Homo sapiens: one gene and its partners. The protein of the gene in region 7 interacts with the protein of the main gene of each other region in a biochemical or structural test. Each region holds a gene or a part of one and is shown on either strand. Other genes may lie near its edges.

Region 1 (3,500 bases), on a different chromosome or scaffold from region 7:
GGTGAGAGGATCGCTTGAACTCCTGAGGCGGAGGTTGCAGTGAGTCGAGATCGTGCCACTGCACTCCAGCCTGGGCAACACAGTGAGGCCCTGTCTCAAAAAAAAAAAAAAAAAAAAAAAAAAAGTCTGTTTTGACTCAAAGCCCCAAAGTGAAGGGCAGTGCCCCCTAGGGGTGAGCTGAGGAGCACCAGGCAGGAATAGGAAGGCAGGGGGCGCCATCTCAGTGGCTTCTTAGCTAAGCCCACCCTGGCCACCTTCATCTAAAACTGCGGTCTCCAACTAACCCTGCCTCCCCGCACTGAGGCCCCCAGCCTGAGTAATGGGGAAGGGCCTTGAAGAAGAAAACCTGGCCCTGTGAGGTCGCAGAGGATGCTGCTCTAGCATGGCGTTGGGGGTGGGGTAACAGGGTCTGTTGACTCACACTGGGCTAGGGCTGACGCCAATACAAGAAATAAAATCAACATGCCAGGTGCGGGTGGCTCACATCTGTAATCCTATCACTTTGGGAGGCTGATTAGGCGGATCACCTGAGGTTGGGAGTTCAAGACCAGCCTGACCAACAAGGAGAAACCCCGTCTCTACTAAAAATACAAACTTAGGTGGGCGTGGTGGTGCATGCCTGTAATTCCAGCTACCCCAGAGGCTGGGGCAGGAGAATCACTTGAACCCGGGAGGCGGAGGTAGTGGTGACCCAAGATTGCGCCATTGCACTCCAGCCTGGACAAACAAGAGTGAAACTCCGTCTCAAAAAAAAAAAAAAAAAAAAAAAATCAACACGTGTGGATGCTTTCTGCACATCAGAGGCACCACCTACATGATCCTATTTAGCCCTTGCTATGGAGGAGGGCACAATACCTATTTTCCCGCTGGAGAAGCCCAGGTCAAGGAACAAGTCTGAGATCACAAGGCTAACAAGTGTCGAAGCTGTGGCTAAAATCCAAGCCTCTTAACTGCAGAGTCTAGGGCATCAGCAGAGATTTCCATTTTTCTTCTCTTCACCATCACAGCAAAATTTTTTGTCAAAGGAATTCTTACGTAGAGACCTATCATACGGAACAGTTAAAAGTAGGCCTTCGTGAAGAGGATGGACGTAAAACTCCCCCCAAATCGGCCTCCTCTTAATTTTCCTCTCCAGGTATGCACCCCAAGCCCTCAGTGGCCCCCAAGGCAGCTCCACGGAATACCACCCGCAGGTTTCAAAGTCACTGGCCCCCGGCTGCTGCTGTCACTGAGAGCTCATAGCCAAACCCCTAAGACAGTATTTCCTTGGCCCTGCACTCACCTGCTCTGAGGTGAGAGGGAGAGATGGGGAGCAGAAACACTTCTTCCCTATCCACAGGCCAGTGGGGGAACCCAGGTCCTTCCCCTCCTACCCTGCCCAAGGCCCAGCTTATGGGGGTCCTGGGACACCTCGGATCCCTGTTGCAGCTCAAGACCCAATTAGGAAGGAGCCAGGTTTCTTTGTGCATTACCAGAAACTGCCCCTCAGGACCAGAAGGCTACAGCCACATAACTGGAGGACTAAGTGGGACCAGGCTTCCTGAGAGCTGTGTTTCCTGAGAGCTGTGTGCAGAGGCGAAGCTGATCTGACCGGCAAGGTGAGGACAGAGGGCAGCTACAGAGACGTCCAAGGTTTGCAGGGACCAGTTCTGCAGTAGCATTTGCCAGTCACCTACTCCAAATATCCACTCTCTGCTTCCTCCTTGTAACTGAACCACTGTTTTTTGGGTAGGCACTTGGGTGCCTGAAATAAAAATTACTCTTCCCTAAGTTCTCTTTCCTGCCTGCCTTTCAGCTAGTGTGACCACATGCTAAGTTCTGTTCAACAAAATGTGACTAGAAGTGTCACATGTGGTTTCTGGGAGGCACACTCTAAAGAGGAGCCACATGCTTCTTGTTCCTTCCTTTTTCCTGATGGCTGGAACTCCAGCAGCCACCTTGGACCACGAGGCCACGTGTGAATGATGGCAGAACCACTATACCACCCCTCTGAAGTTCTATGATATGAGAGAGATATAACTGATGCCTGTCTTATTTAATCCACTACTCTTTTTTGTTGCTATGAGCAGCCAAATCAAGTTCTAACAAACACAAGCCCCAATCCTCAGCTGAAGGATCCTTTGGGTGGGGACAGCACAGGAGACATGGCCCCCTCCTGCTTCCTACCAGGAATCCCTGCTCCTTCCTGCCCATATGCCCCCAGGACCTAGGCCGGCCCCCACCTGCCACCTCTTTCTTGAATCAGGTAGCCTTGCATTTACAGAGCACAGGCTGGCAGGCAAGTTCTAAGCCAGCCCTGACACCTACTCACTTACTAACTCATTCATTCAACCTATATTTATGGAACAGCTACTTTGAGCTAAGTGCTATTCTAGGTGCTGTGGCTACAGCACAATGGAAGTCCCTGCCCTCATGGAACTTACAGTCTAACGGGGAAGAGACAGACAAACAAACAAACCAATGAACACATATCAGGTGACGAGTGCTATGGAGAAAATAAAGGCGAGTAGGAGGAAAAGAGTGTGCTGGGGGGGAGGGGTTTCTAAGCAGAGCAGCCCCGGTAGGCCTCTTTGAGAAAGTGGCATTCATGGGGAGAGCTGAAGGAAGTGAGGGAGTGAACCACGTACATATTGGGAGAAGAGCTGGTTGTATGATCTACTGCAAGTCCTTGCATCTGTGCCTCAGTTTCTCCTCTCTGGAATGGTCTGTGAGATAAAGGTCATGCAAAGGCAGGCTACCCCAGCTGGAGGGCTCTGTGGTTCCAATCAGTGTGTTGGGAGTAGGTTGGCATGGGAACCTGGCTGGATGGAGACCAAAGGGACTCAGTCCTCAGGCAGAGCTCCATGAATTTCAGGTAAGAAGGAGCTGTGGCTTCAGCCTCACACACAGCCAGTATGTTCAAAAATTACAGAGTGCCCTCCTCACCGGCTTGCTTAACTGCCGTCCCTTCTACTCTGATCAGGGTCAGGTAGCTGGAAGGTTAAGAAATCAGACAGCGTAGACCCCAGGTCAGTCCACACATCCCTAGGGGCCTGGCTCTGGGAGGTCCCTGCACCCCAATCCAGGGCCAGATAGCAAGCCTCTCTCAGCCGCTCCTTAGAATTCTCTTCCCCCTGAGTGGAGGCACATACATAGCCTTCTGGCCATGACAATTGGTGGACGAGGTGCCACCCTACACCCTGGTCCTCGGAAGTGTGAGGTGGCTTATTCCCAAGGGGAATAAGGCTACAAAAGAAGAGAGGGTGGTGGTGATATATGTCGGGGAAGGGGGTGGGGATGGTTGGAGGTGGCCCAGGGGCCAACCTTAGCTGGGGGACCCTCTTAGCTGAGGGTCTGTGCTTGCTGCTGCTCCAGCGATTCAGGGCAGGGCCAGGACTCAGAGACAATGCAAGAGCTTGGGATGCGGGAGATGTGGGCAAGGGCCACTGATGAATCTGCAGCTGAACGCTGCATTTTGTGCAGCCAATTATCCCGCAAACATTTCTTAACCACCTATTTGG
Region 2 (3,500 bases), on a different chromosome or scaffold from region 7:
AATACATACATAGATACGTACGATGTATGCATGTATATATATATTTACCCAGGGCTAGACTCCTCCATTCCACATTCAAAACCACCTCTGAGGGAGAGAAAAAATGGCCACAGCCACCACTGCCCAAGTCCTTAGGTCAGTTCTCCCCTGGATGTTTTCACCAAGGCCCCCCACCCTGGCTGCTTGAAGGGCTCTGTGATGAGAGCTCACCTGCAATGACGACAATGTCCATTATGGTGGGGGTGGAGGTCTCCATTCTGCCATCCGGCCATCCAGACATCCCTGGATCAGGCTCTGTGAACAGAGGACAAGAATCTGAGGTCAGAGAGGAAGATTCTCCATGCCTAGCAGCACCTTGGCCCAAGCTGCATCCTTTGCTCAGGTGTGAGCAGCTCTGAGAATGGGTCCAAGTGGAAAGGAGCAGTGCGGCGCACCCACTGCTCCTAGCAGGGATGCACAGACCAGGAACCAGGTTCTGCTTGGTCACTGACTGGGATGGAACTGTTTGAACCTGAACCACCAGGTCACTCCAGGCCCATTTGAGTTATCTGCCTAATGCCTGCACTGAGAGTGGTGCTGCACGTGGTAGATGCTCAACAGATATCTGTGCTGTGTATGAAGGCAGGGACTCTTGTTGTGTTTAAGAAAGAATGTTTGTGGAGTGTCTGATGCTCACACCAGGTGTCTCAGTCCATTTTGTGTTGCTATAGCTGAATACTTGGGTAATTTATAAAGAAGAGAGGTTTATTTGGCTCACAGTTCTAGTGGCTGGGAAGTCCAAATTGGGCAGCTGCATCTGGTGAGGGCCTCATACTACTCCCACTCATGGCAAAAAGCAGAAGGGGATCTGACATTCGCAAAGAGACCACAAGGTGATATAGAAAGCAAGAGAGTTTAGAAAGCTGAATTTGCTTTTATAACAACCTGCTCTCCAGTGACTAATCCAGTCTCACGACAGCTAGAACTCCCTCCCTCCCTCAAGGGGGTATTAATGTATGCATGAGGGATCTGCCCCTGTGACTCAAATATCTCCCACTAGGTCCCACCTCCCATCACTGCCACCTTGGGAATCAGATTTCAACATGAGCTTTTGCAGGGTCAAACCACATCCAAACCATAGCACCAGGTGTTGCTTTAACTGCCTTCTATCTACTCTATCATGCAGTCTTCACATCCATCCTATGAGGTGCCTGGTGTTAATGGCCCATCTCACAGGAAGAACACCAAGGTTCAGAGACGTGATGTGCCCTTGATCACACAGCTCATCCGATATCAGGTCAGGACTTGGCCAGTGCTCTTGCCTCTGGAGTGCACTTTCTCTCTTGGAGAAGCCCTTCCCAGGGCTCCTGTCTGAGGAGTCATTCCTGAAGCCCTCCCATAGGTCTTTACATTGACTCTGCTGTGGGAAGGACCACTCTATGACACTATCCAAGTTACTGAGTGTGTTTTTTCACAGCTTAATGACCTGGCCAAAGAGGGTAGGATGTCTAGGACATTGGGGACCGGGATGTTTCCTAGAGCTGCTGCACAGAATGCCTTCTCTCCTCTGGGAGATGATTGTGAAGAAGGATTTATTGGATCACAGAAATATCAGTGTTAACATAGGAAATCCCACGTTCCCATTACAATGGCTCTACATAATAAAACAGAGAAGGATGCTTCATAATAGTCATTTCCACTCAGATAATCACTTTAATTATAGTGCTATGAGGTCATTCTCCCCAGTGCAGCTGCCAGATGCCTCTTTCTTATAAGTAACTGCCTGCTGGAGTCAGGAGTCATAATGGGTGAGGGGAAAACAGACTCCCAGCTAGGGGTCCACAGCAGGACACAGATGGGCCAAGCTAGGGGTGTCTGGGGCCACCAAGGAGCTTGGAGGTGGGGAAGAAGATAATACAAGGCACTGAGGCAGCCCAGGGACCCAGTGAACACTGGCTCAGGATCTGGGTCTCGGGAGCCAGGAACCAGGCAGGGTATAGGATCCAGCATTCACGGTGTTTCTCAGTAGCAAGACCTGAAGCAAGGGCCGTAGCAAGTTCAAGTGGGTGCTAGACTTTATTATATAGAGTGAACAAGTGCAGCCTCCAGTTTAGTATCTAGCACATAGTAGGTACTCAATAAATATTCACTGAATGCATGAGTAAATGCATGCATATATAAATGAATGGATTTAGTGGTGGGGTTCTAGACTTTTCCAATCAACAAGCACCTCAAAGTTCAGAAAGAAAGAATAACACCTTGCTTAAGTAGGCATGGATGGTTATAGAAGCTCAAATACCCAGAACTGCCCTCAGAAATTTTCCAGGTGAAGACAGCATTTATTAGGACAGTTTGTCCAACACAATCAGCGTTAGAAGAGACTGTTATTTCCTCTTCCTTTAAAACAACTAACAATCGCTTACTAGGTGCCAGGTGCAGGTCTCAACATTTAAAGCAATTTAACATGGTCCTTGCAACAGTTGCAAGAACACTGCTTGGAGATTATTCATTCTAAAACCAGGGAAGTCCCAGAAAACAGGGCAGAGCTGGTTGCTGTATGTACACTATACAGGGGGAAAAATGAGGCTATTAACTGTGCTTGGGGCAGGTTGTGTGGTTTGTGTTTTTCAATGGCCCGATGACTGCTCCTCAGCCTACCCTGCTCCCATTCCCTCCTGGCGATTGAGGACTGGGGTGAGTCTGCAGGAGGAGCAGGACTTGGCCACACAAAGGACTGAAGTGGGAGAGGGTAACGCAGAGAATGCCAAGGTGTTGGCTGTGCGAGGGGCAGTCACCCCTCACTTCTGCTGGGACTCCAGAGGGGTGGGGAAGTACAGTGTAAGGCTGCTCAGGAGGGGTCAGATCACTCAGGACCTTGAGAGTGAGGGGGCAGCAGTCTCATGGGGTGGGGGTGTTTTGAGTTTGGGCATTTACTTTGAAGCTGCAGAGCAAGCCTCTGTCTTTTCTTAGAATGCAGGTTTATTTGGAGGCCTTGGGGAGGGACTGCTGAAGAATATGGAAAGTCTGAAACTGCTCCCAAGTCCCACCTTTATAGAACAATTTCCTAAACTTCCTACTGCCTTCAGGGGAACACTTGTATCTGCATAATGTTAATAATATCACCTAGGAAGAATAAAAGCTCAGTGGTGCAATGAGTTGGAGAATGCCAGGTTACACAGAGTCCAACAGGTGTCTTTGATTGCTTGCTTCTGCTGCTTTTTCTTTCTTTTCAAATTGTAGATGTTTCCTGAGTTATTAATAAGCTGCTGAGAAGTGTGGATCTCAAAGAAGGTCGCAGAGCACACAGCACCTCCCAAACTTGGTTGTTCTTCAAACACAGTTTGCAGTCACAGCCATGACCCATGGGGAGCCCGTTGCTCAGGGTTCAAAGCAAGGCAAAGGCAGGCTCAAGTTTCCTTGAGGATGGAGGGTTGGGGGTCATGGACCCAGGGAAGAAAATAATGTGGGATGAGGGAGACGGTGGAGAAGTCTAAGTAGCCTGGTCAGTCTACCCTCATCTC
Region 3 (3,500 bases), on a different chromosome or scaffold from region 7:
AAACACAGAAAAATCTTTTAATAGTAAAGAACAAAATTCTAATCACATTTTAATCTTGAGATCTTTGTCTCAAATGTAGTTATTCATAGCTTTGTATTTTGTTTGTTAAATTGCAGTTTTAAAAAATTAGGGATTTACATGAAATGCAGATAATGTGAAGTTAGGTTTTGTTAAGAGTATCCTTTTATTTTTGTTTTTTAAAATACTATACGTGAATATGTTGCTAAATTTTTTGCACTTAGGAAGTTTGTTTGCTGTTTTTTATTTAACCTATTAATATATTTCATGTTTTTGAACTATATGTATGTTCCTAAGGTAAACTCTGTTGAGTTTGGCAAATTACTTTTTAAAATAATCTGTTCACTAATTTTATATAGGCCTTTTCACTCTAAAGATGCTGAGAATGACCAAAACCTATACCCTGTTTGTTTGTTTTTTATATATATATAGACCATCTCTCATATTACTAAGATTGAATGACAAATCAGGCCACTTTAAACGGTTTTGAAAGTATGAAAAGTATAGCTTTTTATCTGTTTGATGCTCTATTATGCTAAAGTCAATCTCTTTATTTATTGTTTGAATTTTCCATTAATAGATGTTCCCTTCGGAGAGGCAGCTCCTTCACATTCTTAACACCTGGCCCCAACTGGGACTTCACTTTGGTGAGTAGATACCTGGGTTTTTATTTCGAGACATTAGATAGAATTAATTCCCTGGTTTCTTTCAGTCTGTTACACAGATCAGTGGTCCTTACTTCTGAGGGTCTTGAGGAACAGAATTCCTGTAACCATCTTTGGCAGCCTAATTTAGTCCTTTTCTGCTAACAAGCTGTAATAACTTTTTGTTTCAAGTAAATATAAAACATATTTTGCAAAGTACTCACATCTATTAATCTTTAACTCTATGCCATCCTTTCTCTTATTCCTTTCAATGTTAAATCTGATAATATATTATGAAACATGAAATTATTTTTATACATCCTCTACTGCCTTTTTTTCTTGGTTGAAAATATAAAAATGCTTGATTGCACATTGTGTATATATATTTAATATATATAATGAATGATTTTCTGCTATTAATCATCTCAGCATAGAGGGACTCTATTATTTTTATAGCAGGACTTTACAGAGGCATTTAATTTTGTGTGAAGTGATAACAGAAAATTGATTCTTTTTGTACTTAAAACTTATTAGCTCATAATACATATATAAAGTACGTACAAATAGATCATGATTCTTATGCTTATCTAGGAAAAATAGCAAAAGTGATTCAAAATATAATTTCATATAAATGCATAAGTATGATCATATATGTGCTTTTTTCCCCTTAGTACAGTCTAATATTGCTAGGCAGTTTCCTCCCCACTTCTTCTCCTTCTCCATATTAGTCCATTCCCAGGCTCTGCTCTAACCATGTCAACAGTACCATATGTATCCTTCTATATTTTGCTCATATCATTAATATACACAAAGAGGCTCACAGATAAATACACAAGCAGGATTTATGGTTAGTTGGCCTTTCAAACCTGGGATCATATTATTCATAATTTTCTGTATCTTCTGGGTATGACCTTGGGATCAGTAAAATATTTCTTGAGTTCCAACACCTCCATTCTGATATATATTGTTCTTTCATGTCTTAGATCATTTTCCTAATGTCTTTTAGCTCAATTCAAAACAGTGTGTTATAATTTTGCTCTGCTGCTTTGAGCATTTCCTCCTGGTGTGCAGTCATTTCCTAGGGGATAGATTCTGTTCCTTGTTTTCTTTTTTCATAGAATGATATTGTGTAGAATTTGACTTTGAGAATTTTCTGTTCATTTTAGTGTGAATTTAGTTTTCAACTTGTACACAAAATCTTGGTTCAGATAGCTTTTCTGACTTCACAACCCTCCTTCGTGTTGTTTTTTATGGTAGCTTGCTTTCTGAGACTGCCTGGCTCTGTTACTTTCTCCACTTCTATCTGGACTTTGCCGTTCCTTTTTTTTTTTTTTTTTTTTTTTTTTTTTCTTCTCTATTGGCCCTATCTTGTTCAATTTTGATTCAATTCCCAGCAGTTTCTCCTCACTGTGGGGCCAGGAAGTTGACGGGAACCCTAACTAGTCACTTTTTAAGAGTTACCAAGAAGTAAGCTGTGTAGGTAACCTGAAAAGTTATTTTGAGATGTGGGAAAATGAAGTGTTACCCGTGGGTGCTTATTCACTATTAATTAAGTACCAGAAATGGTAGATATGTACACAGTTTTGCCACTACTGGTGCCAGAAGGGCTGAATGAAAGTGATAAATGGTAAGTGGAAAGTACTCCAGGGACATGGCTGTTCACCTTCTAGTTAATCAATCCTGCCTCAGGCAACAAATCTTAATTACTTTGGGCCATGAGAAAAGGATTTTTTTTTTCTAGTGAAGACCTTGCCCCCAAGATAAATAATGTGTTCCTTTTCAAAAAAAAAAAACTAGCTGATTTTATATTTAAAAAATTTTTACTTTTTCTCTAACAAGTACAGACAGCCCTTGATTTACATAAGAGTTCTGTTCTGAAAAACTTAAGTAGTATTTTAATAGGGTAGCCACTTCACAGCAGTGATGACTTAGTCAGGGGAGACTGTTCAGATAGTATCTATTCCAAAGACAATTCATGAGCGTCTCTCCTCAAGATAATTTTCTTTGTTTTTTTTTTTTTTTGAGAGGAAATCTTGCTCTGTCACCCAGGCTGGAGTGCAGTGGCGCAATCTCGGCTCACTGCAGCCTCTGCCTCCCAGGTTCAAACGATTCTCCTGCCTCAGCCTCTTGAGTAGCTGGGACTACAGGTGTGTGTCACCACGCGCAGCTAATTTTTTTTTTTTTTTTGGATTTTTAGTAGAGACAGGGTTTCGCCACGTTGGCCAGGCTGGTCTCGAACTCCTGACCTCAGACGATCCGCCCTCCTCAGCCTCCTAAAGTGCTGAAATTACAGACGTGAGCCACCGCGCCTGGCCTCAAAGTAATTTTCTTGTGACTATAGCCAAAGGCTTAACTTTTTTAAATTGATTTTTCTAGTTTTATAGAGTCTTTGTTTTGTGAGGTAATATGCATTCCTTTTATATGAGAATGAAATCTCTATTTTTCTTTTAGAAAAGAAAACGCAGAGAGAAAGATGATGATGTTGTAAGCCTTAGCAGCCTTGATCTGAAGGTAAGCCCTGCTGCCCTGTTAAAGAAAAGCATTTAAAAATATGCAGATAGCATTTTATTTCTGTGCTGCAAGAATAACAAATGCTGGTTTGGGTTTTTTTGTTTTTTTGTTTTTTGCATTTTGTAAGTGCAAAAGTGAATAATATTAGTTCATAGACACCGTCTTTTTTGCTATTCTACTTCTTTGTTAAGAATGAGGGAGAAACCACTCTCAAAATGTTAGGCTATAACTACTGATCACAAACACAAATGCTAAGGAGACAGGCTGTAATCTGTGCGAAGGAACGAGGTAAGAGAGGGCCGGTGGTGAAAAGGAGAGCCCCAGGTT
Region 4 (3,500 bases), on a different chromosome or scaffold from region 7:
TGATTCTGAACAAGCGGTGCAGCCCTTCATTTTCTCTAAGAAGTGGTTCCTTCATTAAGTTTATGGGTCCCTCCATGGGCAGGGCCCTGTGGGTACTATGCAGGGTTAACCTCCCCTGCCTACAAAGGGAGCAGTCTGGGGAGAACAGTTTGCCCACGTTGAGGGCGGCTGCACAGGCAAGAGGGTGGGGCCGGAGCCCACTCACTAGGGCTTTCCCTCAAGGATAACAATATGGCGCTTTTTCTTTCTGAAAATATCACATCAGAGATGCCATTCATTCGTGCACGACAGGGTGGTGGGCATGGACCTGTGCTGTTTACAGACAGCGTTCCCCGTCCCTCTCTGCAGAGTGTGAACCCCAAGGTGCATCTGCCGTGGTGGGATTGTAAGACCGGGGCTTGTACCCAGTGCTTTAGCACATGCCAAATGCCGGCTCTAGGATGCATTACTCCAGAGCAAAGAGAACCAGCTGTTTTCCTATAAGTGCTGGGAAGTGGTAGTTTCCCCTGAATGTACTTCGGTATTTAAACCCAGCATGAACTGGGTGGTGTGTTCACACCCACAGCTTGTTGGGCTTCCCTGATTCTTCATTCTGAAGCAATTTCATGAATTAGCAACTGATACCTCCTTGGGAAAAGCCAAAGGAAATGCATTATGGATTCGGGGTAAAAGAAAGCACAGTCTGCTAGAAAACAAAGTCATCACCGCCCATTCATTCAGCGTACTTCAGTGTGCCCATGTCCTTTCCAAGTCCTTGCCTGGACTGCCCCTGGCGAGCGCAGCGCCGGTGCTTGGTCTGTGCGCAGAAGGTTTGAGGCCCGGACCTCTGAGAACCTCTGGTCTCCCAACAGTCCCCTCTTTCCTCAGATCATGGCAGTTGCCGGCCTAGATTCAAGTAAAGCCCAGAAGTACTCACCGAGTCACTCGACCCGGTCGTGGGCCACCCCTCCAGCAACCCCTCCCTACCGGGACTGGACACCGTGCTACACCCCCCTGATCCAAGTGGAGCAGTCAGAGGCCCTGGACCAGGTGAACGGCAGCCTGCCGTCCCTGCACCGCAGCTCCTGGTACACAGACGAGCCCGACATCTCCTACCGGACTTTCACACCAGCCAGCCTGACTGTCCCCAGCAGCTTCCGGAACAAAAACAGCGACAAGCAGAGGAGTGCGGACAGCTTGGTGGAGGCAGTGAGTACGGTTCTTGGCCGTGGTGGGCAGGAAGCACCAGGAGCAGCAGAGGTGCAACTGTAACAGCAGGAAGGGCAGTGGTGGGAGGGCGGCCAGGCTGTGAGCTAGGCTGCCTCAATCAGACACTTCTGAGCAGCAGGAATGTACCTGAAGCATGAGTAAAAACTGGTCACCACCACTGGCTGCAGTGGCTTACGTCTGTAATCTCAGCACTTTGGGAGGCCGAGGCGGGTGGATCACCTGAGGTCAGCGGCTCAAAGACCAGCCTTGCCAACATGGTGAAACCCCGTCTCTACTAAAAATACAAAAATTAGCCGGGCGTGGTGGTGTATGCCTGTAATCCCAGCTACTCAGGAGGCTGCAGCAGGAGAACTGCTTGAACCCGGGAGGTGGAGGCTGCAGTGAGCCGAGATCACACCACTGCACTCCAGCCTGGGCCACAGAGCGAGACTCTTGTCTCAAAAAAAAAAAAAAAAAAAAAAAAAAAACAAAAACTGGTCACCACCGTCAATTCTCATAAATGAGCTGTGCTGGCATTATGGGTGCTGTTCCGGCATATGTTTCTAGTTTATACTAAATGTCTTTCCCCAGTGGGTTTCACTCTTGTTGGGCCATGTGTAGTTTTTTAGCTCCAGGACATTTTCAAAGCCATTTACACTAGTTATTATGTATGAGGTCTAGAAAACATGATTGAGCTGCATCCCCAAAGCACACGGTGCAGTTAAGTTAGCACTGGAGTTGATTTTTCTGTCGTCCCCCTGCCCTGCAAAGCCTTATAACACCCCCATGCCATCCATCCCTCTTTTCTGTACAGGTCCTGATATCCGAAGGCTTGGGACGCTATGCAAGGGACCCAAAATTTGTGTCAGCAACAAAACACGAAATCGCTGATGCCTGTGACCTCACCATCGACGAGATGGAGAGTGCAGCCAGCACCCTGCTTAATGGGAACGTGCGTCCCCGAGCCAACGGGGATGTGGGCCCCCTCTCACACCGGCAGGACTATGAGCTACAGGACTTTGGTCCTGGCTACAGCGACGAAGAGCCAGACCCTGGGAGGGATGAGGAGGACCTGGCGGATGAAATGATATGCATCACCACCTTGTAGCCCCCAGCGAGGGGCAGACTGGCTCTGGCCTCAGGTGGGGCGCAGGAGAGCCAGGGGAAAAGTGCCTCATAGTTAGGAAAGTTTAGGCACTAGTTGGGAGTAATATTCAATTAATTAGACTTTTGTATAAGAGATGTCATGCCTCAAGAAAGCCATAAACCTGGTAGGAACAGGTCCCAAGCGGTTGAGCCTGGCAGAGTACCATGCGCTCGGCCCCAGCTGCAGGAAACAGCAGGCCCCGCCCTCTCACAGAGGATGGGTGAGGAGGCCAGACCTGCCCTGCCCCATTGTCCAGATGGGCACTGCTGTGGAGTCTGCTTCTCCCATGTACCAGGGCACCAGGCCCACCCAACTGAAGGCATGGCGGCGGGGTGCAGGGGAAAGTTAAAGGTGATGACGATCATCACACCTGTGTCGTTACCTCAGCCATCGGTCTAGCATATCAGTCACTGGGCCCAACATATCCATTTTTAAACCCTTTCCCCCAAATACACTGCGTCCTGGTTCCTGTTTAGCTGTTCTGAAATACGGTGTGTAAGTAAGTCAGAACCCAGCTACCAGTGATTATTGCGAGGGCAATGGGACCTCATAAATAAGGTTTTCTGTGATGTGACGCCAGTTTACATAAGAGAATATCACTCCGATGGTCGGTTTCTGACTGTCACGCTAAGGGCAACTGTAAACTGGAATAATAATGCACTCGCAACCAGGTAAACTTAGATACACTAGTTTGTTTAAAATTATAGATTTACTGTACATGACTTGTAATATACTATAATTTGTATTTGTAAAGAGATGGTCTATATTTTGTAATTACTGTATTGTATTTGAACTGCAGCAATATCCATGGGTCCTAATAATTGTAGTTCCCCACTAAAATCTAGAAATTATTAGTATTTTTACTCGGGCTATCCAGAAGTAGAAGAAATAGAGCCAATTCTCATTTATTCAGCGAAAATCCTCTGGGGTTAAAATTTTAAGTTTGAAAGAACTTGACACTACAGAAATTTTTCTAAAATATTTTGAGTCACTATAAACCTATCATCTTTCCACAAGATATACCAGATGACTATTTGCAGTCTTTTCTTTGGGCAAGAGTTCCATGATTTTGATACTGTACCTTTGGATCCACCATGGGTTGCAACTGTCTTTGGTTTTGTTTGTTTGACTTGAACCACCCTCTGGTAAGTAAGTAAGTGAATTA
Region 5 (3,700 bases), on a different chromosome or scaffold from region 7:
GAGCAGGCTGCAAGGTCACAGAGGGCAGAGCCGAGAAGTCCTAGGAAGTTGTCCATGCATTTACCTCATCAGCTAACGAGGGCTTGACACACATTTTTATGTCTTTATACCTAACTCTGAGATGAATGTTTTCAAAGCTGCAACATGTATGGGGAGTCATGCAAACCGATTCTGTTATTGGGAATGAAATCTGTCACCGACTGCTTGACTTGAGCCCAGGGGACACGGAGCAGAGAGCTGTATATGATGGAGTGAACCGGTCCATGGATGTGTAACACAAGACCAGCTGAGAGTCTGAATGTTATTCTGGGGCACACGTGAGTCTAGGATTGGTGCCAAGAGCATGTAAATGAACAACAAGCAAATATTGAAGGTGGACCACTTATTTCCCATTGCTAATTGCCTGCCCGGTTTTGAAACACTCTGCAGTACACGTGTCACAGGAGAATGACCTGTGGGAGAGACACATGTTTAGAAGGAAGAGAAAGGGCAAATGTACATTTTTTACGATTTAAAATTTTAATTGTTACCAAACAAAAATATCCACTCAAAATACAATTCAACAATGCAACAGTCATCTTACAGCAGAGAAATGCAGAGAAAAGCAAAACTGCAAGTGACTGTGAATAAAGGGTGAATGTAGTCTCAAATCCTCAAAGAGTTGTGTTTATTTCATCGACAAATAGATTATTCGTATTCAATTCTGATGTGTTTTAAAGACTAAGATGCTCATTTTACGATTAGCGCACATGTGTATATTGTCACCTGTTCTCCTTAGAAAAATGCTCTTCCTCATGGTTAATGTTTCCCTTTGGTACCAATTTTGCCTGTTTGCATAAAGTATTTCATTTTTAAAACTCAGCATAAAATATAGACTGCATCTGAAAAGATATTGAATATAACATATAAAGCAGAACACACAAGTTCCACATTTCAAAAGCCTCGATAACAAAAAAAGAAAGATCAAATCCCTTATTAGTCTCTGTAAAGTCATTTATAAAGCTCCTGCTGATCCTGTTAAGCATGGATATAATTGATCTTTCTTTTAAATTAAAATGTAAGCTTTTCCCCAAGACATGTCAAAGTGCTAAGAATGAATAGGAATTGTCCATGTTTTTCGCTTTTGACCACGGGCACCATCGGAACTGAACTCACAAATATAAGAAAAATATCCCTTCACTTTTAAAATCCTAAGACCCAGAAATCAGAATCCATGGGATTTGTTTAGTAAAGAAGGGAATCTGTGGCTCTAGGTGTCCACTAAAGGAGAGCCAAAAATGTCCCAAATAATCTCAGAACCACAGCATCATTTTGTAAATAACAGAGCCAAGTCCTCAGATTGTACAGCAGATTGGTTCTTATTGCTGGAACAGGGCCTAAACCATGCCTGGAACCCCAGCTGTTACAGAGGAGGTGGACGGGAGGGACTCCTGACCTGTTCACATTGCGAAGGTGTGCGGAAACCAAGGTGAGCAGAGAACATGAATGCTCACACCCTTTGGCCCAGGTGCCTGTGATTCAGCCTTCTCATTAACAGGATTCCCAGATGTTCATCCTCCATGCAATCTTCAGAATGAATGGTCAGCTAGGAGCTTAGTCCCTTGACCAGATTTGATGAACACATTTCTGTACAACTTTCTCAAATCCTTGGTCGGCACATCCCACATTCTTGATGGAGCTGTCATGAGAATCAGGTTGGGGGCTTCTCTTGTCTCTCTTTAGCCTAATGGGTCAGAGACCACAGGGAACACAAGAAAAAAACCCAGGAAGGGCTGTGCACCTGACAGCTTCTTTGTTAAACTGGCTACATATTATGTGTTCCCAGAAACTTCAACAGCATTACAAATCCTAACTCATCCAACATTATATAAAAATACTCTGGATAGATTGAGGTCTTTATACAGTATTACAACAGCGCGGCATGATGTAGCTGAAATGCACACGTGCATCTCTGCAAGGCACAGCTTTGCAAGGAGGATCAGCTCCTGGATAGCTCCTTCTTTCTGTCTTTGTCGGGGGCCTCAAAGGTGAGAGCGGGAAACTGGGGTTTTCTTATTCCTGCCACATTTACAGGAATGTGGACTGAAAAAACAAAGGAGAAAGTCTTTAGGAAAGATTATGTAACTAGTTAGAAGAGGGTGTTCTGTTATTATTTAATAGTATAGCTGGTTTTGATCAAATACATTCATGAAAACCCAACTCTAAGGTAACAACAATATCTGTCTCCAGGATCATTTTTTGTCTGTGTTCAGACCTTAGGGGTGTTGCAGGAAGTCAAGGACCCTGAATGGAGGGACCAGCTGGAGCCACAGCAGAGGAATATAAATTGTGAAGATTTCATTTTGATATGGACATTTATCAGTTCCCCAAATTAATACTTTTATAATTTCTTATGCCTGTCTTTACTTCAATCTCTGAACATAAATTGTGAATATTTCATTTTAATATGGACATTTATCAGTTCCCAAAATTAATACTTTTATAATTTCTTATGCATCTCTTACCTTAATCTCTTAATCCTGTTATCTTTGTAAGCTGAGGATGTATGTCCCTCAGGACCACTACTGTGTTAACTGTACAAATTGATTATAAAACATGTGTGTTTGAACAATATGAAATCAGTGCACCTTGAAATAGAACAGAGTAACAGCGATTTTCAGGGAACAAGAGAAGACAACCATAAGGTCTGACTGCTTGTGGGATCGGGCAGAATACAGCCATATTTTTCTTCTTGCAGAGAGCCTATAAATGGATGTGCAAGTAGGGAAGATATTGCTGAAGTCTTTTCCTAGCAAGGAATATTAATAATTAAGACCCTGGGAAAGGAATGCGTTCCTAGGGGGAGGTCTATAAACAGTCGCACTGGGAGAGTCTGCCTTATGCGGTTGAGATAAGGACTGAAATACACCCTGGCCTCCTGCAGTACCCTCAGGCTTACTAGGATTGGGAAACCCCGCCCTGGTAAATTTGAGGTCAGACCAGTTCTCTGCTCTAGAACCCTGTTTTCTGTTGTTTAAGATGTTTATCAAGACAATACATGCACCGCTGAACATAGACCCTTTTCAGTCATTCTGCTTTTGCTCTTTGTCTTGTGATGTTTGTTTTTGCCCTTTGCCTTGTGATCTTTGTTCTCCTTTTTGCCCTTTGAAGCATGTGATCTTTGTACCTACTCCCTGTTCTTACACCCCCTCCCCTTTTGAAACCCTTAATAAAAACTTGCTGGCTTTAAGGCTCAGGTGGGCATCACAGTCCTACCGATATGTGATGTCACCCCCAGCGGCCCAGCTGTAAAATTCCTCTCTTTGTACTCTTTTTATTTCTCAGCTGGCCAACACTTATGGAAAATAGAACCTATGCTGAAATATTGGGGGCTGGTTCCTCTGATACAGGGGTTTGTTAGCATTATAGCATTTAAGTTCTTTATGAACTTCTACTGAATTAACATATATTTGGAAATGAGCTGTTAACATGAACAAAAACCAGCAGAAACGATAAAATAATCCAGTGTGATTTTTAAAAGGGAAATGCTAGCAAGTTTTAGTAATTTAGCACTAAGTAATTTTTGTAGAGTAAATAACCATGGATCACAATTAATGTGCTTAAATTGTAGCACTGTAAACCATACTTCTACTATATTTTTTTTCATGTATAGAGACTAGGTATAATTAATTAATGTACCCAACTTTTCATTATGAAAAAT
Region 6 (3,500 bases), on a different chromosome or scaffold from region 7:
AACAAAATGTTAGTTAGTAAAAGAATTAAGTTGTAAAAACATAATTTCAGCAAAAATCAAACTTACTCTTCAACTGATGTATATGGTATTAATCGTCCATTCCAAAAACATTCAAAAATAGGCCTTTTCCCTCTAGCTGCTTTCTCAAGTATGAAACAATCATCTTCATCATCTTCATCTTTTAATTCTAGATCAAAAGGGCAAATGGAACAAAATGTTTATTGCTAAAATGTGAGAAATAATGAAACAAACACATAAATGTTTCAAATTGCATTCTATAAAACCTAAAGGTAGTTTTATACTGTTTGCCCACAAAAAGGTAGGTTTACAAAGTGGTTCCACATTACGAATGCTGTCTGTCATTTAGAAGTCAATAATTACTTATATATGAACCAATGTACTAGCTGCTGGGCCTGTCATCTTTAAAACCTATTCATGAGGCTAAAAGAGTCTTACATCCAAAAAGATTATCCCCTATAACAAAATCCCTCCTTCCTACAAATATAGGAGCTTAAATCCCGTATCTAAAACAGTTTCACAATTTTATCAGAACTAGTATGTTCACATGAAAGTCATCTGAGAAATCTATGACATCTAATAGCAGCGAGTTTACCTAGTTTGAACAAATTAGTGAATGATGCTAAAATTAAGTTTACTTTTTAGAAATTATTTTCAGATTCAAGTAAGCATGAAAAATGTACACAGAACTGTAAGACATGTTACTATGCATCAAGAGCATTAATTTGCACAATTGTCTATAATCTTATGTTTATTAGCAACACACTCTCGTGTATCCAGATAAATTAGGATTAAACAATGTGATCCTGACATATTAACACCTCAGCTACCCTGGAATTAGTTTACCCACCTAAAACAAAACCTTCTCCCTAAAAGCCCTCACAAGAAGTCCCTTATATAAAAGCTGCTTTCAATCAAACAAAATCACTTTGCTCTTAGAGGAGAATCCCTCTGATTGATCACTCAACTTACTTGCTCTTCTTTTTAAGGCAGCATTTGAAAAAAATTATATCTTTTTGTCTATTAGCACACAAAAATTGGAAACAGCAAATTTAAGAGGTCAGAGATGGCCAGGCACAGGGGCTTACGCCTGTAATCCTAGCACTTTGGGAAGCTGAGGTGGGAGGATTACCTGAGCTCAGAAGTTTGAGACTACCCTTGGCAACATGACAAAACCTTGTCTCTAATAAAATACAAAAAATTAGCCTGGCATGGTGGTGGGCACCTGTAGTCCCAGTTACTCAGGAGGCTGATCCATGAGAATTGCTTGAACCTGGGAGGCAGAGACTGCAGTGAGCCTACATTGTGTCACTGCACTCCAGCGTGTGTGGCAACGCAAGACTTTTGTCTCCAAAAAATAAAAAACAAAACCAAAAAGGCCAGTGGAGCCACTGAGTAACAATATGTACTGGGCAGGAGCACTTAATAAATAGTGTTGAGCACTATTCTGAGAAGTTGCCCCAGTTTTTAAATTTGATCTTCACAACACCCCTATGAGGTGTGAACTACCCATTTCCCAGGTAAGGAAACTAAGGCAGGGAGTAGTTTGTCCAACAGAAAGTGGCAAAGATGGGATTCGAATCAGGATCTCTGGTTGCAGGCCCTAGAAAACCAAGAATGTACTAAGGAAGTATTCTGAATGAAAAAGTTTAATATTGTTAACCTATAAATTCAATGCAATCCCAATAATCTCACTAGAATTACTTCAAGTGAATGTACAAAGCTGATTCCAAAATTATCTAGAAGAGCAAAAGTATTCTCAAAAAGGAACAATAGTGAAAATGTTTTTTCCCAAAGATACCAAATTACAAGATAAAGCTACAAGACAGTATCATTACTCATATTAAAAAAAAATAAAATAGTACTTTATAGTAAAGAATCTAGACCTATGTACTTATGGGAACTTTGTATTATACAAGTTCTAACTCTTGGGTAAATTATAACATTCAATAACTGGTGCTAAGAAACTGAATATGAATACCACATAGAAAATAATTGTTAAATCCCTATCTCTCTACTGGGGGGGGAAAAAAAGGTGGGGGCCAGGTGTGGTGGCTCACACCTGTAATCCTAGTACTTTGGGAGGCCAAGGCAGGAGGATTGTTTCAGGCCAGGATCTTAAGACCAGCCTGGGCAACACGGCAAGACCCCATCACTCAAAAATTTAAATAAATAAATAAAACCCCACCTTGCTCTACATACAAAAAAGAAAAACACAGATGCATTGACCATAAAATGACAACAAAAACAAAAAAGCTACAGATTTATATAATTTTGAGATGTAAAAAGCCTTTCTACAGTAAGACAAAATCAGAAAGCATAAAGAAAAAGTTAGTAAATATGACTGCATAAAGTGTAAAACTGCAACAAGGATAAAGAGAAGACAAGGGAACATATAAAGGATTAATACGCATACATATCTAAAAGTTTGGTTTCGTAACAGAACTAAAAGAAGAGTTCATTAAAGATTTATTCATCTAGAAATGAATGTACACAAAAATCAGGAATTACAAAAATTACAAATACCTAACAATCTAAGACTTGCATAAGAAAAAATTTAATATTTATCTAACCTGAATAACCCAACCGATAATCATTTAGAAAAACAAATCACTGTCCTAAATTACAACTTCATATTTTATAACTAAGATAACAGATTAACATACTTGATGGAAAGCATGGATCATCAGGGTAAGTTTCTCTATCATATAAGAATGGATGATAACGGATAATCCCTTCCACTACACCATCTCCTTCAACATGAGCTTTGAATTCAAAACTATCAGCTGCTGTGTTTACATACAACGTCTGCATGTCGTCTTGTATTTCCCTTAGGTTGACAATCTTAGGTACCTTCCCTTTTTCAAACATAGAAATCTAAAATAAAAAGGAAACAAAAATAATTAAATTCTATGGTAACTTTACTTTTGTTCTCAGCTATGATTCAACAACAGAATAAGTAAAAATTATGTTTATTTGTACAAGTAACAATCTGGCTTAATGAAATACATATATTTACATATGAGTTAAACAGCTTTAAGTAGCATCTCAATAAGGAACATACTACTAAAAAATATAAAGTAAGCAAAGAAACAGCAAATCAGAGCTGAAGGACAGAAAAGTCATGAGTACATTTAATTCGAGGTTTCTTGCTAGAGGTAGGAAGTGGGACAACATCGTATGTGAAATTCTAACGTGTGGGTTAGAGGATTGAGAATCCAATACTCAAATGCTCTGTGCTGCTAAACCTTGTCACCACGATATAACTTCTACAAACAAAAGGAAAGCTACATTATCTCCCTTTTCCTCCATGCTTCAAGAGATGATTGATGTTCAGTAACAATGCATAGCTCCACAGAAGAGAGACAAAAAAAGATAAACCAAGCCTACAGTAAATAAAGGTTTGAGAAAAATACATCTAGGAATAATCTCTTTAGTTGGATATCAAACAATGAAAGTAGTTTGGTAAAAAACAAGGAGAG
Region 7 (3,500 bases):
ACCTCATGATCCACCCACCTCGGCCTCCCAAAGTGCTGGGAGTACAGGCGTGAGCCACTGCGCCCAGCCTTTTTTTTTTTTTTTTTTTTTGAGACAGAGTCTCACTCTGTTGCCCAAGCTGGAGTCCAGTGGCACGATCTCGGCTCACTGCAAGCTCTGTCTCCCGGGTTCACGCCATTCTCCTGCCTCAGTCTCCCGAGTAGCTGGGACTATAGGAGCCCGCCACCACGCCCCGCTGATTTTTTTGTATTTTTAGTAGAGATGGGGTTTCATCGTGTTAGCCAGGATGGTCTCGATCTCCTGACCTCATGATCAGCCTGCCTTGGTCTCCCAAAGTGCTGGGATTACAGGCACGAGCCACTGCGCCTGGCCATATAATCTTTTTAAGGTTGTATTCTATTTACCAAATATGTAAAACGATAAATAAGAGATATCTTTAAACTAAACACCTGAGCCTTCTTCTGACAGGAATGAATGTGTTTAACGGTGTTTAGTAAAAATAATAACTAAAGGGTACACCCTTCTGCCTTACCAAAGGTGAGCTCCTATGGCTCAGTGCCTAGCTCACTTTAGGCTAGTCACCATTTAGATGTTACTGTGATAACTGTGTAAATGAATTCCTGTAACACTGTAAATGTAAATGAATTCCTAATGACAAATCCACATCTGTTTTTGTTCTTGTGGGTTTTGTTCTGTTGAGGTATGAACCCAGCTGTGCACCTGTGTGGGTTTATATTGTGCTAGCTCACTTCAGTCCAGACACCATCTAGATGCCACAACCCCTTTCTAGTGTTGTGCTAAGGGGTGGTTCACAACACTAGTACAAGACACGTTTTGCATTTAATACAACCCCCACTGCAGCACTCTCAGTTTGCATTTGGATTCTCATAAACTGCTTTCTTCTGTAAACATAAAGCCTTAAATATAGGACAGTGAAAAAAGTCTTCACTACAAAGGATGTCTTAGAAAAAAGCAGTGGTAATTAAAATTAGGTTTTAATGTTAGTGGTTTTAAAGTATGTTCTAAAACAATTTACACTCAATAGTAAATGACAAATAGGTCATTTCCCAAGATAATCCCAAGCCCACGCAACTAAGTAAGGAAAAATCTAGGTGCTTTTAATATAGACACAATACTATGTGTGATGAATTCTAATATGTCAATCTGGCTAGGTACTGCCATGAAGGGATTTTTCAGGTGTAATGTCCCCAAGTCAGTTGAGGGGAGATGGTCTTGGGAGGGCCTGGCCTAATCAGCAGAGCCCTCTGAATGAGAATTTAGGCCTTCCCTGATCTCACACTCCCCAGTAGCTCAAAATCTTCCCTTCCTGACCAACTGCCCTCTGAAATAGGACTTGCTTAGCCAGCCCCTGTAACTGTGTAAATGAATTTCTTTTGACAAATCCACATCTGTTTTTGTTCTTGTGGGTTTTGTTCTATTGAGGTATGAATCTACCTGTGTGCCCGTGTGGGCTTAGACACAACTATCAGTACCAAATTCTCTTATCAGTCAGGGTTCAACCAGAGACACAGAACCAGTAGGAGACACAAACCCACGCAGGCACAAGAAAGGAGAACAAACCAACACGAAACCCAGGGATGAGTAAACGGAGGGGAGCAGCAAGCACAGGGAAAAGATGACTGGGAGTCAAGAAACTTGGGGTTCAGTCCCAGCTCTGCCCTGTCATTTTCCCTCACCTGTAAAACTGGATCAGAAATCTTACAAAAACAAAAAACAAAAAACCTCTTCAGTATTTCCCTCAAACAGGATCCTCCTCACATCTGTATTTATATTTAAAAAATAAAAACAGAAAAGAAAAAGAACCAGCATGACATCATTAGGTGTGTGTACAGAAGTGAAGACTGATGATTACCTATCGATGAGGGTCCTTGTGGTTGACACTGTCTTCCGTCAAAACCCTGTGATGTTAGCATCTTTGTGAATGCAAAAACTATGTACATCTAATAGCAGACTTTAAAAACAAAACACACATCCCAGAACTAAAAAGTATGTACAATGCTGAACCACTAGAGCCTACAGAAATCATATATTACACTTAAATTATTTTTCTTCAAAATATATTGAACTGCACGGGATTAATATGCTGCATCCTATTTTTAAAAGCCAGGTGAAATAGCTTACTTTGAAGAATAACTAGAAAAATTTGATTGATTCTGAGAATGCGCTGGCTTTGCAGGCTCGGAGAGATGGCTGGCGGCAATGTGTGCAGGAGGCTTATTCTCAAAACTTCTTCGGTCAAAGTATGACAGCTGTTTTCGATAATATTCTTCATCTTCTTCAGGGTCATAATGATTGGACCGAACAATATCTTCAGGTGGCTTCAGTTGAGGTTTTTGAGGTTCTGGGATCCTAACAGATAATGAATGACAAACGGAACACCTTTTTAAATATTAATGTTATGAAGGAAGTAGAATATGTAAGTCTTATCTTGACTAAAAGGTCAATAATTACTAACTGCTGTGATTACTGAGGATCTGAGCAGTCCCAACAGTTAAAATGGATATTTCAAATCCCATGTCCTCACAGAGTATACTCAAAAGGCAGCCCCCTTCTGGCTCATGAGTCCTTTAACACAATATAATAAGCTAAACGATTACATGATTAGGGAACAGCAGGTTAGAAGTAGTTAATCAGAAAGACAAAGGGCAATGTAACCGAGACAGTGAACATCTTGAGAAGTACATATACCAAGGTCAAGAACAGTAAATGATAGACTTTAAGAACTTTCAAAGGGATTTTTAAGAACTCAGTCCAGGATCTCAATGATTCTCATATGAACAAATAACTCTATATGGTCTAAAGTTCTAGAAGGCATACAAAGCAGATGAGGAAGAAAGCAAGTCATTAAGTAAATTCATATTAGACAGTTCTCTTCTTTATCCTAAGTGCAAACATATATTCAGTCAAAAAACAAAATCAGAAGAGCTGTATTCAAATCTAATCTGTCACTTATTGGCAGTGCAATGAGGCCATGGGAAAAAGCTCAGGCTGAGGAGCAGCAGGCCAGGTTTCTCTTCCAGCTCTAAGTCTTGTAAGCTACTTGCCCCTCTCAGCCTCAGTGTCTCTCTCTACAATGCAGAACAACAACAGTGTCACCTCATTATGCTGATGTGCTTAGCACAAGGGCAAGCACCTTATGCATGCTCACTAAATGATTTAGTTATCTTAACCAATCTGAGTCTGTTTCCTCACCACTGGAAACTAAGAGTTCACATGTCGAAAAGCACTTTTAAAACTAAAAAACATAATACAAATGTCAGAGCTTAAAAATGTTTATTTAATCATCTGCTTGGAGAATATCTTTCCGAAAGTCTGCTAAAGGTATAAAGATTTGTCAGATTTGTCAGAAATAAAGTTCTACTTTTTTTCCCCCTAGAATCACTGTTTAGGAGAGCTGATAGTTTTTATTTAAGGACAAACTCCTCCTATTCACACCTCTCCTCTACTAACACAGTAAAAGGTTTTCTTATTGACTAAGA

What was found.
Region 1: the proteins of TJP1 (region 7) and PODXL interact in a test that uses a peptide from one of them, tested with the Homo sapiens proteins (one large-scale study listed by IntAct).
Region 2: the proteins of TJP1 (region 7) and GYPC interact in a test that uses a peptide from one of them, tested with the Homo sapiens proteins (one large-scale study listed by IntAct).
Region 3: the proteins of TJP1 (region 7) and NET1 interact in a test that uses a peptide from one of them, tested with the Homo sapiens proteins (one large-scale study listed by IntAct).
Region 4: the proteins of TJP1 (region 7) and CACNA1D interact in a test that uses a peptide from one of them, tested with the Homo sapiens proteins (one large-scale study listed by IntAct).
Region 5: the proteins of TJP1 (region 7) and SLC22A3 interact in a test that uses a peptide from one of them, tested with the Homo sapiens proteins (one large-scale study listed by IntAct).
Region 6: the proteins of TJP1 (region 7) and SMCHD1 interact in a test that uses a peptide from one of them, tested with the Homo sapiens proteins (one large-scale study listed by IntAct).

Annotation. Positions count from the first base shown.
Region 1 is NC_000007.14:131,546,629-131,550,128, forward strand, and holds part of PODXL (podocalyxin isoform 1 precursor), read right to left. Parts: intron 1-3,500. UniProt on the Homo sapiens protein: Involved in the regulation of both adhesion and cell morphology and cancer progression. Functions as an anti-adhesive molecule that maintains an open filtration pathway between neighboring foot processes in the podocyte by charge repulsion.
Region 2 is NC_000002.12:126,690,658-126,694,157, reverse strand, and holds part of GYPC (glycophorin-C), read right to left. Parts: intron 295-3,500; coding exon 211-294; intron 1-210. UniProt on the Homo sapiens protein: This protein is a minor sialoglycoprotein in human erythrocyte membranes. The blood group Gerbich antigens and receptors for Plasmodium falciparum merozoites are most likely located within the extracellular domain.
Region 3 is NC_000010.11:5,426,057-5,429,556, forward strand, and holds part of NET1 (neuroepithelial cell-transforming gene 1 protein), read left to right. Parts: intron 1-598; coding exon 599-665; intron 666-3,113; coding exon 3,114-3,173; intron 3,174-3,500. UniProt on the Homo sapiens protein: Acts as a guanine nucleotide exchange factor (GEF) for RhoA GTPase. May be involved in activation of the SAPK/JNK pathway Stimulates genotoxic stress-induced RHOB activity in breast cancer cells leading to their cell death.
Region 4 is NC_000003.12:53,809,111-53,812,610, forward strand, and holds part of CACNA1D (voltage-dependent L-type calcium channel subunit alpha-1D), read left to right. Parts: intron 1-867; coding exon 868-1,188; intron 1,189-2,002; coding exon 2,003-2,296; 3' UTR 2,297-3,500. UniProt on the Homo sapiens protein: Voltage-sensitive calcium channels (VSCC) mediate the entry of calcium ions into excitable cells and are also involved in a variety of calcium-dependent processes, including muscle contraction, hormone or neurotransmitter release, gene expression, cell motility, cell division and cell death.
Region 5 is NC_000006.12:160,449,378-160,453,077, reverse strand, and holds the end of SLC22A3 (solute carrier family 22 member 3), read right to left. Parts: intron 2,083-3,700; coding exon 2,022-2,082; 3' UTR 501-2,021; downstream 1-500.
Region 6 is NC_000018.10:2,697,226-2,700,725, reverse strand, and holds part of SMCHD1 (structural maintenance of chromosomes flexible hinge domain-containing protein 1), read right to left. Parts: intron 2,896-3,500; coding exon 2,685-2,895; intron 188-2,684; coding exon 67-187; intron 1-66. UniProt on the Homo sapiens protein: Non-canonical member of the structural maintenance of chromosomes (SMC) protein family that plays a key role in epigenetic silencing by regulating chromatin architecture.
Region 7 is NC_000015.10:29,714,469-29,717,968, forward strand, and holds part of TJP1 (tight junction protein 1), read right to left. Parts: intron 2,371-3,500; coding exon 2,143-2,370; intron 1-2,142. UniProt on the Homo sapiens protein: TJP1, TJP2, and TJP3 are closely related scaffolding proteins that link tight junction (TJ) transmembrane proteins such as claudins, junctional adhesion molecules, and occludin to the actin cytoskeleton.